Linked DNA regions of Homo sapiens: region 1 is linked to region 2. Evidence: fine-mapped expression QTL. Tissue or cell type: blood mononuclear cells. Region 2 holds a variant in brackets; the other region holds the start of a gene. All regions are shown on one strand. Distances are from middle to middle.

What was found. PIP is the estimated chance that this variant, and not a neighbour inherited with it, causes the effect.
Region 1: LINC03122 starts here. The variant in region 2 is fine-mapped to the expression of LINC03122 in blood mononuclear cells (TOPMed, PIP 0.92).

The regions. Positions count from the first base shown.
Region 1 is chr5:61,635,356-61,641,070 of GRCh38, reverse strand. LINC03122 (long intergenic non-protein coding RNA 3122) reads right to left here and starts at 3,290. Exons shown (of 2, transcript NR_126525.1): 1 at 3,225-3,290.
Region 2 is chr5:61,703,749-61,709,463 of GRCh38, reverse strand. The region is part of intron 1 of LINC03122 (long intergenic non-protein coding RNA 3122); the gene reads right to left. Among named protein-coding and RNA genes, the nearest start is that of LINC03152, 8.2 kb to the right of the region's middle. The variant A/T (reference allele first, on the strand shown) is at 2,486.

The DNA of each region.
Region 1 (5,715 bases), 68 kb after region 2:
TGAACACTAGTCCAGTCAGCAGTACTCTGTAGATGTCCAGAGGGAAAGGAAGCCCACTGGGCAGGCCCAGGAAGAGAGCTATTTTTGTGTTTAGACATGAAAAAGCTTACAAGGAATCCTTTTCTTTCCTCTGCTGCACAATTGAGTGTTTTGAAGGAGAGCCAATACCTTGCCATTATCTGGAGAATGTGCAATCGGCACAAGGAATAAAAAGGGACGCATACAGCTGAGTCTAGAGCTGATGAAACCAGTTTATCTGAATCTGATTCCAGGGCATTTTGATGCTGAAAGGTGGTGTTATGACTCACTGAAGCTTTCACATCTATTGTTTTTCTTTTCCTGGGTGGCTTTGCCAAAGACCTTATAGATATCATTATTTTCAGATTACTGTTATTACACACATTCTTCTTGAATAAAATGCTACCTTATTTTTATCTCCATAGAGCAAAATCAAGTTTCGGTTGTTTTCTTATCTTCATATGTAAAACAGTCCCAGCGGTTAAGTCTCAGATGGGAAGAAAAATTAACTAAAGCCTTGAGCAGAGATGTCCAGACTGAAGGCTGACTTAACGGTTTCCCCATGACCAAGTGGACAGGGTGGCACACCCAATTCCCTGGACACATGCCAGAAACTGGGCTTAACCTGCATCATGAGCAAATAAAGTTTCATTTAAAGAAAAGAGTTTCTGCAATTTAGCAAAAATGAGTGACTGACGAGTAACACTATCCAGAAACTGACAGATTGTCAAACCCGCCTGCTACCCCTGGGTCATTTCAGCCATGGAATTTCTGGCCCAGTGAGAGCAAAGTCATTGCTTTCTCCCTTGACAGATTTCTCTGTGGAGAGTTCAGAACAGAAGAGAGAAATATCTGCAAGCTTTCTGAAAGCCATGGGGAAGCTGTGGGATGTTGTGTCCGGTGCCTGCGTCGGGCTCCATCTCTCTCCACAGCAGCTCTCATATGTATTTATGAAACCGTATGAGGCTCCCTGGTGGGTGGCACTTTATGGGTGAATTACTAGCTAAAATTCAAAGGGGTTTTGATGGCAAATAGTATTTTATTCAATTCATAAGCTTCTTCTCCTAATTCAGCATCTAGCCTTAAAAATAGACCTTTAGCAGAGGTTGAGCAAACACCTGCCTGTTTTGCTTTGGCCCAGAACCTGGGCTTGTCTCAGACCAGCTGGTTCCATATGGGCCTCTGTAATACGGTGGCCTGCAAAATACAGGATTCCCAGTTAAACTTGAATTTCATTACAAAGAACAAATCATTTGCAATATAAGTATGTCCCTGCAGTGTTGGGGATAGACATGTACTAAAAAATTTACTCTTTGCTTTTTGGAAATTCAAATTTAACTGAGCATCTTGTGGTTTTATTTGCTAAATCAGGCAGGCCTACTCTGTCCCAGTGTATAAGCATCACACCGCCCTTGGTTCTTATCCAACATCCAGACCTATACTGGGGCTTCTCAGAATGGGATTCCCATGAATTTGGGATGCCCTGAGAGGTAGCGTTAGTAGTGAAAAAGGGGACCCTGCAAGGTGGAGGCCTCAAAGCCAGTTATTTCTGCTGCCGCCCTACCCAAGGAGAGTGTAGATGGAAGTAAATATCTAAATGCCCTCATTAGGGTGGGGCTGTTCCAACACAGGAATTACGACACACGGCCAGACTCAGAGGCTGCCCTCTGTTCTGTGGCAAAAGGGTCCCAAAGTACAGCCCACTGCTTAGCCTGACTGCCCTTCCTAAGTACTTCTTAAAGACTGCGTGTCCCAACCGGGCTCAAGCCTGTAATCCCAGCACTTTGGGAGGCCGAGGAGGGCTGATCTCGAGGTCAGGAGATCAAGACCATCCTGGCTAACATGGTGAAACCCTGTCTCTACTACAAATACAAAAAAATTAGCCGGGCATGGTGGCGGGCGCCTGTAGTCCCAGCTACTCGGGAGGCTGAGGCAGGAGAATAGCGTGAACCCGGGAGGCGGAGCTTGCAGTGAGCAGAGATCGCGCCACTGCACTCCAGGCTGGGCGACAGAGCGAGACTCCGTCTCAAAAAAAAAAAAAAAAAAAAAAAGACTGTGTGTCCCACTTTATCTGAGGGGCCAATCTGCTCAAGACATTTTTGAGCTGCCAGTCCCGAACTGCGTGCTTAAGCCCCAAGAGCTAGCAGGTATCCGCAGAGCCCCTGCACAGGGCTGCTGGGAGTTTCCATTGGCCACGCCTTCTGACCTCAGTTCTGCACTCCCATGCTCATTAGCTCCCTGCATTCTTGGATGCTCTTGAATATTCCCCTGCTCACCCTTCTTCTCTTGCCTGGTACAACCTTGGTAGCCTGACCCCAGAACTGGGCTGCTTGCCCTGGGCACCAGTTGGCTTTGTTCCCAGGCATTACTGCTGGGATTCGCTCTGGACTCTGAAATATGCCTCCTCAGCCAGCCCGACTGCCCAGATCCCACCAGCCTGCTCTGTCCAGAGAGATGAGACATTCGGACTATTCAGTGTCCGTTCATGCCATCTGCTGGGATCATGATTTCTATACTCTGGTCACACATTACATGAATAATACTTCCCCCATTTCCTCAAAAAGATCCTCAGACAAGCTCAACCCCCATGTGCTAGTAGTTCAGGATTCTATGACCATCCTAAGTTTACACAACCACTTGGCCTTGGCTGGCCAAGACATGATGGTGTGGGAGCCTAGGAAGACCCTTCAGAGACGGCAGCAACCAGACTCCTCTTCTCACAGTCCCCCTCCAGCTCTGGTCTGTCCTCCTCACACAACCTCCCCCTCACAGTTTTGGGGTCTCATCTTTGGACCCTCTCTTGCCCCATTTTCCAAACACATCATCCCTGGCTGTATTAGGGGTCTCTGGGGCAGCCGCACTATGCTTTGATAGAGGGATGAGGTAAAGTTATTTTCCACTTTATTAACCTGAAAAAGCATAAACCGACCAAGTTTAGGGGCCTGAAGCATATTCTAAACAGACAGTGTCTCCTCCCTGACCCAGTTCTCTTACGGAATCATGGGAACCCATCTCCTCGACTTAGCAGCGGCAGACAGGCTGGTGTTTCTTGGCATTGTTTTCTAGGGCTGAAGCTGCAGTTTTCCTGATTTGGCCCTTGCATATTATTTAATTGTTTATCTTGACATACAGGTTTATCCCAGAAGGGGATGTTTAAAAAGTGGCATGGAGACCCTGGCTATAGACAGAAATGCAGCTTAACTTACCTTGGCTTCCTTCCTGCCAGACTCCTCCCAATTATTCTGCAGGCTTCTTTGCCCTGAGGGCAGTTTGCAGCTCCAGGGACTGGAATTGGCTTAAAAAAAAAATTCCTTCCTCTCTGTGCCCCATGTGAGGGAGCATTGTGTTCTCTCTAAATAATCAGCCTGGCTTTGTGTGACCTAACTGGACAGGGCCCTTTGAGAGATTTTTCAGTTGCAGAAAGAGCAGTCAGTGGCATCCTACAAAATCAGAAAGTTTTCAGACCAAGGAGAGAAGTCAGTGACAGCAAGATATTTTTTTCTTTAAGTTGTATTGTGACTAATTCCTCTCTCCCACTGGTGTTTAGAGTAATTAGGTAAAAGTGCAACAGAAGAATCCAAATTTATATTTTAGATCTAATAAATAATAACATTTAATCAGATGATCCCCATCCATTAACACCAAAATAACAAACAATTCAATGAATTATTTTAGGGTACTTACTATGTGCAAGGCATTGTCAAGGTAATTATTTCTTGCATTTACTGATTTCCTCCTGGGGACGCAGCACTAGCAAGAAGCTAATGGATTAGAAAGAAGTAGAAGGCCTCCAGCTGACAACCCACTCAGAAGAGAACATGGATCAGAATTGCCTGCCTCCATGGCAGGCACAGAGCTGGGAATTCATAAGCAGAAATTACTTCATTCAATCATCTCAATAGCCCTGTGGGGAAGACAGTAGTTCTCCATTTTACAGATGTGGAAACTGAGATCCAAAGACTATGTATATAGCAGGCAGAATGATGCCTCCCCTCCTTCAAAAATTCTGAAGGCTGTGAATAGGTTACCTCAAATGGCAAAAGGGGCTTTGAAGAGGTGATGAAAGGTTTTGCAGTGGGGATGTTACTATCGACTTTCTGAGTGGGCCCAGTGTAATTGCCATGGTCTTTAATAAGGGGGTAGATAGGAAGATAAGAGTGAGAATGACAGGGATGTGACAATGGAAACAGAAATTGGAGTGATGTCGGGTCATGAGTCAAGGAATGCATGCACCCTCTAGAAGCTGGAAAAGGCAAGAAAACAGATTCCTCCCCCTCCACCCCAAGCCTCCTGAAGACGCCCTGCCCTGATAACCCACTGTGAACTTCTGGCCTCCAAAACTGTAAGATATCTTGGTCCATTTTCTGCTGCTGTAACAGAATACCACAGGCTAGGTAACTTATAAATAACAGAAGTTTATTTGTCTTATGGATCTGGAGGCTGGGAAGTGCAAGATCAAGGGGCTGCATCTGGTGAGGGCCTTCTTGCTGTGTCATAACATGCAGAAGGCATTACCTGACAAGAGAGCATGCGAGAGAGAGAGAGGAAGGGAACCAGAACTTCATTCTTCTATGTGGAGCCCACTCCTTTGATAACTAACACACTCCTGTGATTAACAGCCTTGATCCATTCATGAGGGCAGAGCCCTCATGACCTAATCACCTCCTGTAAGACCATGTTTCAACATTGTTACAATGGCAACTAAATTTCAACCTAAGTTTTGGAGGGGATATTAAACTATAGCAGTTATACATTTGTGTTATTTTAAGCCACTGAGTTTGTAGTCATTTGTTGGAACAGCAATAGAAACTAATACAGTATGCCCCATTTGCATTCCACAATGGATTTGAGGTGGTCATAGACAGTTGCTCCAGAGTGGTAGAACCAGTCAGGACTGCATGCTATCTAACTGGCCCCTGGAGTTCTGCAAGGCAGGGGCCCTAGAGCAGGATTCAAGTGAAGTCAATGTGCCCTTAAAGTCTATGTCGTTTCTTTTTTTCTGATCTGCTTCCTCAAGATAAAATTTAGGAGCAAAATGAGTGAAATACCAGAAGAGAAATATTCTGTAACATGACATGTTTAATGAATGAGTAAAGAGTTCAGGAAATGAGTGAGTTCTGAAAATGAGTTACTGGTGCATGCTAAAGTGATCCGGGAAGACTTGATAGAGGCAATATAGTATAACCTGGGCCCTGCAGCATGGACAGATTGGAAGTAGCATTAGAGGCAAACAGGAGGCCTTGCAGCTGAGGGAATGACCTGATAGAAGAAATGCCCCTGGGAACAGAAAGGATAAACCAACCTTCCTAACCTGTATCCCCACCTCCTACCCTCACCCTATTCTCTGCCTGTGGATTCCATTAAATCTTCCAACCAAAGCCTTGGCAAAGGCTTTGAATAACATCCTGTGGTCTTCCTTACTTTACAAATGCTAAGTCTTGACCCAAAGAGATATATTTCGTCTTTCTCGCCCACAGTTACCAAACAGATCAAGTCTCCCAGGTCACTGCTCCCTAGTCATTAGGAACAAAGCGTTTTTAGTTTTTCAAAGTCAACAAGCATACTCTTTGTCTCTGTAGTGGCCAGTTTGATTCAGCATGTCCAAATGAGGAAAATTTGGATTAGAATTCCAGACTTTAACCCTGGCCAGGAAATTTTGTCAAATACAAGGACAGTGACTTGAGAGATACACTCTTA
Region 2 (5,715 bases):
GCAGCAAAGGCCCAGCATCCACCTACTCTCCTATCTCTGCTACTCACATCTTGATGCCCCTACACTCGGTTCAAAGCTAAGAGCATTTTCTGAATTAATTAAAAACTCAGAACATAGCTCAGGTCCAGAGCTAGGGAGAAAACCATATGTTTTTTTGGTTGAAAGAAACCTTACATATTATTTAAGGCTAGCCTATCCCTTTCATTTGACAGATAAGGAAACTGTCTACAGAGCCTCTTCTGTATTGCCTCCTACTCTCACCAGGCCAGATGCCAGGCTCCAGCCAGGGCACCACTCAGCAGTATGTGTGACCCAGCTCAGTTTCAGTGAAGAACTATTATAATTGACTAAATGATTCCTTTCCTAAAAGCAACTTTATGAAGATGAGTAAAATGAGAAAATGAAGCACCAACCAACATTTTGCAAACTTATATACTTTTCACTGGTGCATGATGTTTTTGGAAGAGTTTCTGTTTTCTATGAACACTAGGCAATCTCTTTTGACTTTGGTCACTAGGCACCTGTGAAATTGAGGACATCTTGTTGCATTCATATTATTTCAATGTACACTGAATACGAGGCCAGAAAAAAAGAAAGAAGAAGAGTGGAAGGAAAAGAGATTTGTTGAATGGCCACTTGATTGTTGTGTTTTCAACAAGTCATGGACATTACATTGAGGACTTTTGACTCACTGGTGACACAGCTTTCAGTGTGTTCTGTTGTCATTGGTAATTGATCATATTTCACTCTGAAATGAAAGATGAGACTGACAAAAAATCTTGTTATAAAGCCCCTGGCTAAGAGGAAGGCAAGAAAGAAATACAGGTAAGCTAGTTTTCAAGAAATGAAATAAAGAACACGAGAGATCATGCTGTGGCCCAGGCTTAAAGAATTCTTCAATTCCCATCTGAGTTCTGTCAGTTACCTTGATGTTTCATGTTGGTTTTTCCTCATTATTTTACCCAGGTGACTGCTCCTGACCCTACATAGGTTAGGGGATTAACTGATGATGGTGATGTGCTTGGCATTCTCCATGCAAGGAAGGAGGCTGCCCCATCCCCTATTTTGGCCCAGAGCAGATAGCTGAGCTGGAGTGTGCTTTAGTCATGACTCTCCATGGTGTATATTTTGGAAACTGAAGACCCACCTGCTGACCTGGGCCTTGAAAACCTCACAATTCCAGCCTCCGTTTTGTCTGATCCCAAGGAAGATGAGACAAAAAAGCCACTACACCCCTGCCCCCATCTGCTGCTGACCATTGCTGGGGATCTGCACTCTTCCTTCTGCCTGGAGCGAGTGGGAAGTGACCCTGGAGGAATACGGTTTGAAGCATTGATGAGATTTCTGCAGATCTTCATCTGGGCAGTGGGGAGCGTGTTCCAAAATGTGAGAGACTCATTTAGGCAGTTAGTGAGGGTGATCCCATTCTCTCTGCTCAAAGTAGCAGGGAGGGAATGGGAAAGGCCCTTTTATGCAATACTGGATAGTGGTTCAGAGCCCACATGAAGGAAGGAACCCCACTTCCTGGTCAGAGTCCAGGTCTGCTGTTTATCAACCCTATGATTTGAGGCAAGTACCTTAACATCTCTATGCCTCAGTTTCCTTATGTGGGAACTGGAGACTTAGGCTTGCTATGTGAAGCCCAGTTCAGAACACTTTACTCATATTTCTCCAATTAATCCTCACAACCATCCCAGTAGGTAGACACTATTATTATCCCCATTTACAGATGAGAAAACTGAGTCACAGAGCTGGGAAATGGCAGAGGCAGCATTCAAATCTAAGCAGCCTGGCTCCATTATCAATGTTCTTAGCTGCTCAGTAGACTGGGGAACAATGTCACTTTTTTCATAGGGTTGTTGTGAGAAATAAATGAGTTAATCATGTTGAGTGCCTACCACAAACAGTGCCTCCCCCACTGCTTGCTTTAAGCAAGTGTTCACCAGATGCATGCTACCTCTTGTTAAGCTATCATGTGGGGCTGGTGACAAAGACACTGAAGTGAGAGAGAGCATAGGAATAAAGATGGGACAGCAGGAAGCAGTGAGGTACATCTGAGATGACTTTGGTCTTCTTTTCCCTGGCAGTCCCCTCTTCTCTTCAAGCAGCAAGGATGATATTATTGGGGTCCAAAGGTACACAATTTTATCTCTGCATAAAATTTCATAAAGAAATTTTGTTCTCAGTTTGCATTCGGTGATCTGTGATCCCATTCCCACACGTTTGAAGCTCTGAGCACAGGCAAAAAAATCAAATTACTCAGGCCATCCTGCCCCAACAGGCTCTTCCTTTCTGTTTCAGCTTCCTAAGAAACACCCTTTTCTCTCAGGGACTGACCTGTGTTCTGCTCACTGTGTTTGCTGCACAGCCCCAATGGCCAGACGCATTTTTTGCCCTGCTTTGCCCCTTGCTATGCACCAGGAGGCTGACTCTAGGAATCTCCTGCCAGCTGGCTTCCCATAGGGCTTGGTCAGCAGAAGGCACC[A/T]GCAGGAAATACAGGAGGAAAGAGGTCAGGGCACTTCTTCCTGTCTTCACTGGTGTCTAACAAAGCCTGTGATGCTTTGCTGTTGTAGCTCCCATGGAATGAGGGGAGTTCATTCACAACTCCTGTCCCCAGGGCTCTGGTAACTTGGTAACTCTATTTCCTCCTTTTGTCCTTTTGGCCCTAGGAGTGATCGTGGCTTCCCAGTGTTGCTGGTGTCTGGTGCCTTGTCACCCTTGTTTGCTCCTTATCCCTTTGCACAGCACTGTAAGACACACCTGATCCACACTCAATTTGTGCCATCTAGTTGAACTCAGGGCCTTGCCACGACCATGGCTGACACATCTACATGCCCAAGATCACTCTACCCGTGAGGCCCAGAGGTGGAGCCATATATTTTCCATTAACTTTCATTGTAAAAGTTAATCTCGCTGAAAATGTCAGATAGTACATTTTTAATATTTATTGACACTAAGATTAGAATTGATAGGTGAGCATGAAAAAGAAAACAAGTATCATACATATTCACCGCACACAAAGATAACCACTATTTTACTGTGTGCATTTTTTCCTATTACAAAAAAATGCATATACTATTGTTTATTGGCTGAAATATTGTGAACAATTTCCTTCATCAATAAATATACTTCAACATCAATACATTTCTTTCTAATACCTCATCAAAATTCTTAATGACTACAGAGTCATATCTAAGCTTGTACCATAGTTTAATGAGTCCCCTATTAGCAAGCATTCGAGTAGGTTCCAATTTTTCCTTGTTATAAACAGTGCTGCAATAAACATCCTTGTACGATATAAAATACTTGAAAATACAACACAATCAACTTAGTCTTCCTAAACCAAAAGCCACACATATACAGCAGCAGCAGCAGGGTCACTCCCTCTCAAGAGATAATAATATCTGCCTCCCCTGCCTCCCACTGATGTTGTGAGGTTCAACTGAGAAAATGTATATGTAAGTTCTTCATAAACTGTAAAGTGTATGGGGTGGTTATTATAGTATGAGCTTATTCTTTCGTAATAACCTTGTAAGACAGCACCATGGATATATCCTCAAGGCACATTGTACTGACAATTTTGCCAGACATAAAGAATTGAAAGCTTACTTTTAGGCTTTTATATATTTATTTCTCTTTAACACAACAAAGAGTTGTGTGTTAGAAAAGCAGCCTTCCTGTACAAGAGTAAACTACCAGCTGGCAGTGCATTCTATCTGTTCTGGTGCATGTCAACTCATTACATCCCCTCGAGAGGACCACTGCAAACAATTGAAGGAATTTGAGTTGCCTAAAAGGTCCCCATGGCTCTGAAAGTCCCTCCTGTAATACTGGTTACCCCAACTCCTAAAGCAGATTAGTCATAATGACTACTTTCCATTCCTTTCCTAATAGTCTCTTCTAAAAAGCACTTTAGGTAACTCTGCTTGATGAAAAAAAAATTGAGCAGCAGTTCCGTTTTTTTTAATGGGAACTTTTATGTCAAGTATAGAAGCTGCACTGACATCTCACATGAAAACCATCCCATCACTCAGCAAGAGGCACTCCATTTTGGATGGATTCTTGATTTACTTTCTGTGAATCTAAGTTCATGGATTTTCTGCTCTTGCTAACGCAATACTATTAAAATGTCAGAACACAGTTTCCTGGAGCAAGAGTCTTATATAGTTTTCAACTCTTAATGAGAGGCATCAGCCAAGTTTTTAAAATCTTGACTTGAATCATGCTTAATGCTATTTGTTAACTAGTGTGAAAAGGTTTCTATGTGTTAAAGTGGTAATGTTCTACCAAGGTAAATGATGTTCTGGGGCATGATATTCTATCTGGTTGCTTGCTTTCTATCCCTATTCGACTTTTTTACAAAAATTCAATGGAGGGGACATAGTCCTACTTTATAATGTTAAGAAGCGTTTTTACTTTAAGTTCGCTCAAATTAAGAAAAGACACAGGGCCGGGTGCTGTGGCTTATGCCTGTAATCCCAGCACTTTGGGAGGCTGAAGCGGGTGGATCATGAGGTCAGGAGATCGAGACCATCCTGGCTAACACAGTGAAACCCCGTCTCTACTAAAAATACAAAAATTAGCTGGGCGTGCTGGCAGGCACCTGTAAACCCAGCTACTCAGGAGGCTGAGGCAGGAGAATCACTTGAACCCGGGAGGCAAAGGCTGCAGTGAGCCGAGATAATGCCACTGCACTCCAGCCTGGGCAACAGAGCGAGACTCCGTTTCAAAAAAAAAAAAAAAAGGAAAGAAAAGAAAGAAAAGATACAAAGCCTCCTCTTGAACTGTTTTCTCAACTACTTGATCATCTGTGATCTGTGTCTCTTCTGGGAAGGACGGACAGGCAAAGCAGGGTCCAGTGTTCATGTGCTGAACGTAACTTGCCCTAACAGCACAAGAAGCCCAAGGGCTTGTTTTCTGTGTGAGTCAAGGAAACACCTGCTACCTCCTGAGACAAGCCCAATCCACGGGTATTGGCAAGGAAAGGTATGCAGGCCTTGCACAGAGATACTGAAATTGCTTTTGTTTCCTTCCTTCCTAATTTTGTCTCTGTAGATGTCTCACTGTTTCCATGGGTTTATTCATTTCTATCACCACCACTACCCCCACTTTTTTTTACAGTTGTGTATTCAAGCAGAGAAAATGAGTTTAAAAAAACAATTATGATAGTGAAAAAAAGAACAGATTCAAAACTGCCATATATGTGAGGCCCATGGGAGTCCCTGATTAATTTTCATTTTTATCATTTAGTTCTGAGATTGGCCTATTTTGGTAAATGTGAGAGCAAGTGTGGTTATGGACTTGATTACCTTGCAACCTTAAAAACAAATAAACCAGCTTGAGTCTTTTTCTTACCATGGTGGGTTCCTGTTAGGCAAGAACTGCAACTCCATGAGCAAGTTGTCCCAACACCACAGGGGCAGACCTTCATCACATAGCAACTCCCAAAATGGGAATTGGAGTGGATTTTAGAACACAGTCAGCTAACATTGAGAACATCATGGTTGTAGGCAAAACTTTCCGTTCCTCTATTTGTCTCTCTGCTCCGTTCTTGGGTCCATATTCTCCTACACATTTTGGATGCTTGAAATACTGATTCTGAAAGAATAATCAATTAGCAAATAGTTACAAGGAGTAGGACACTCAAGGAGTCTAGTTGAAAACAAAGGACCAGCATGATAATTGTACAAAAAGTACTTGTAGAAATTCAAAAGT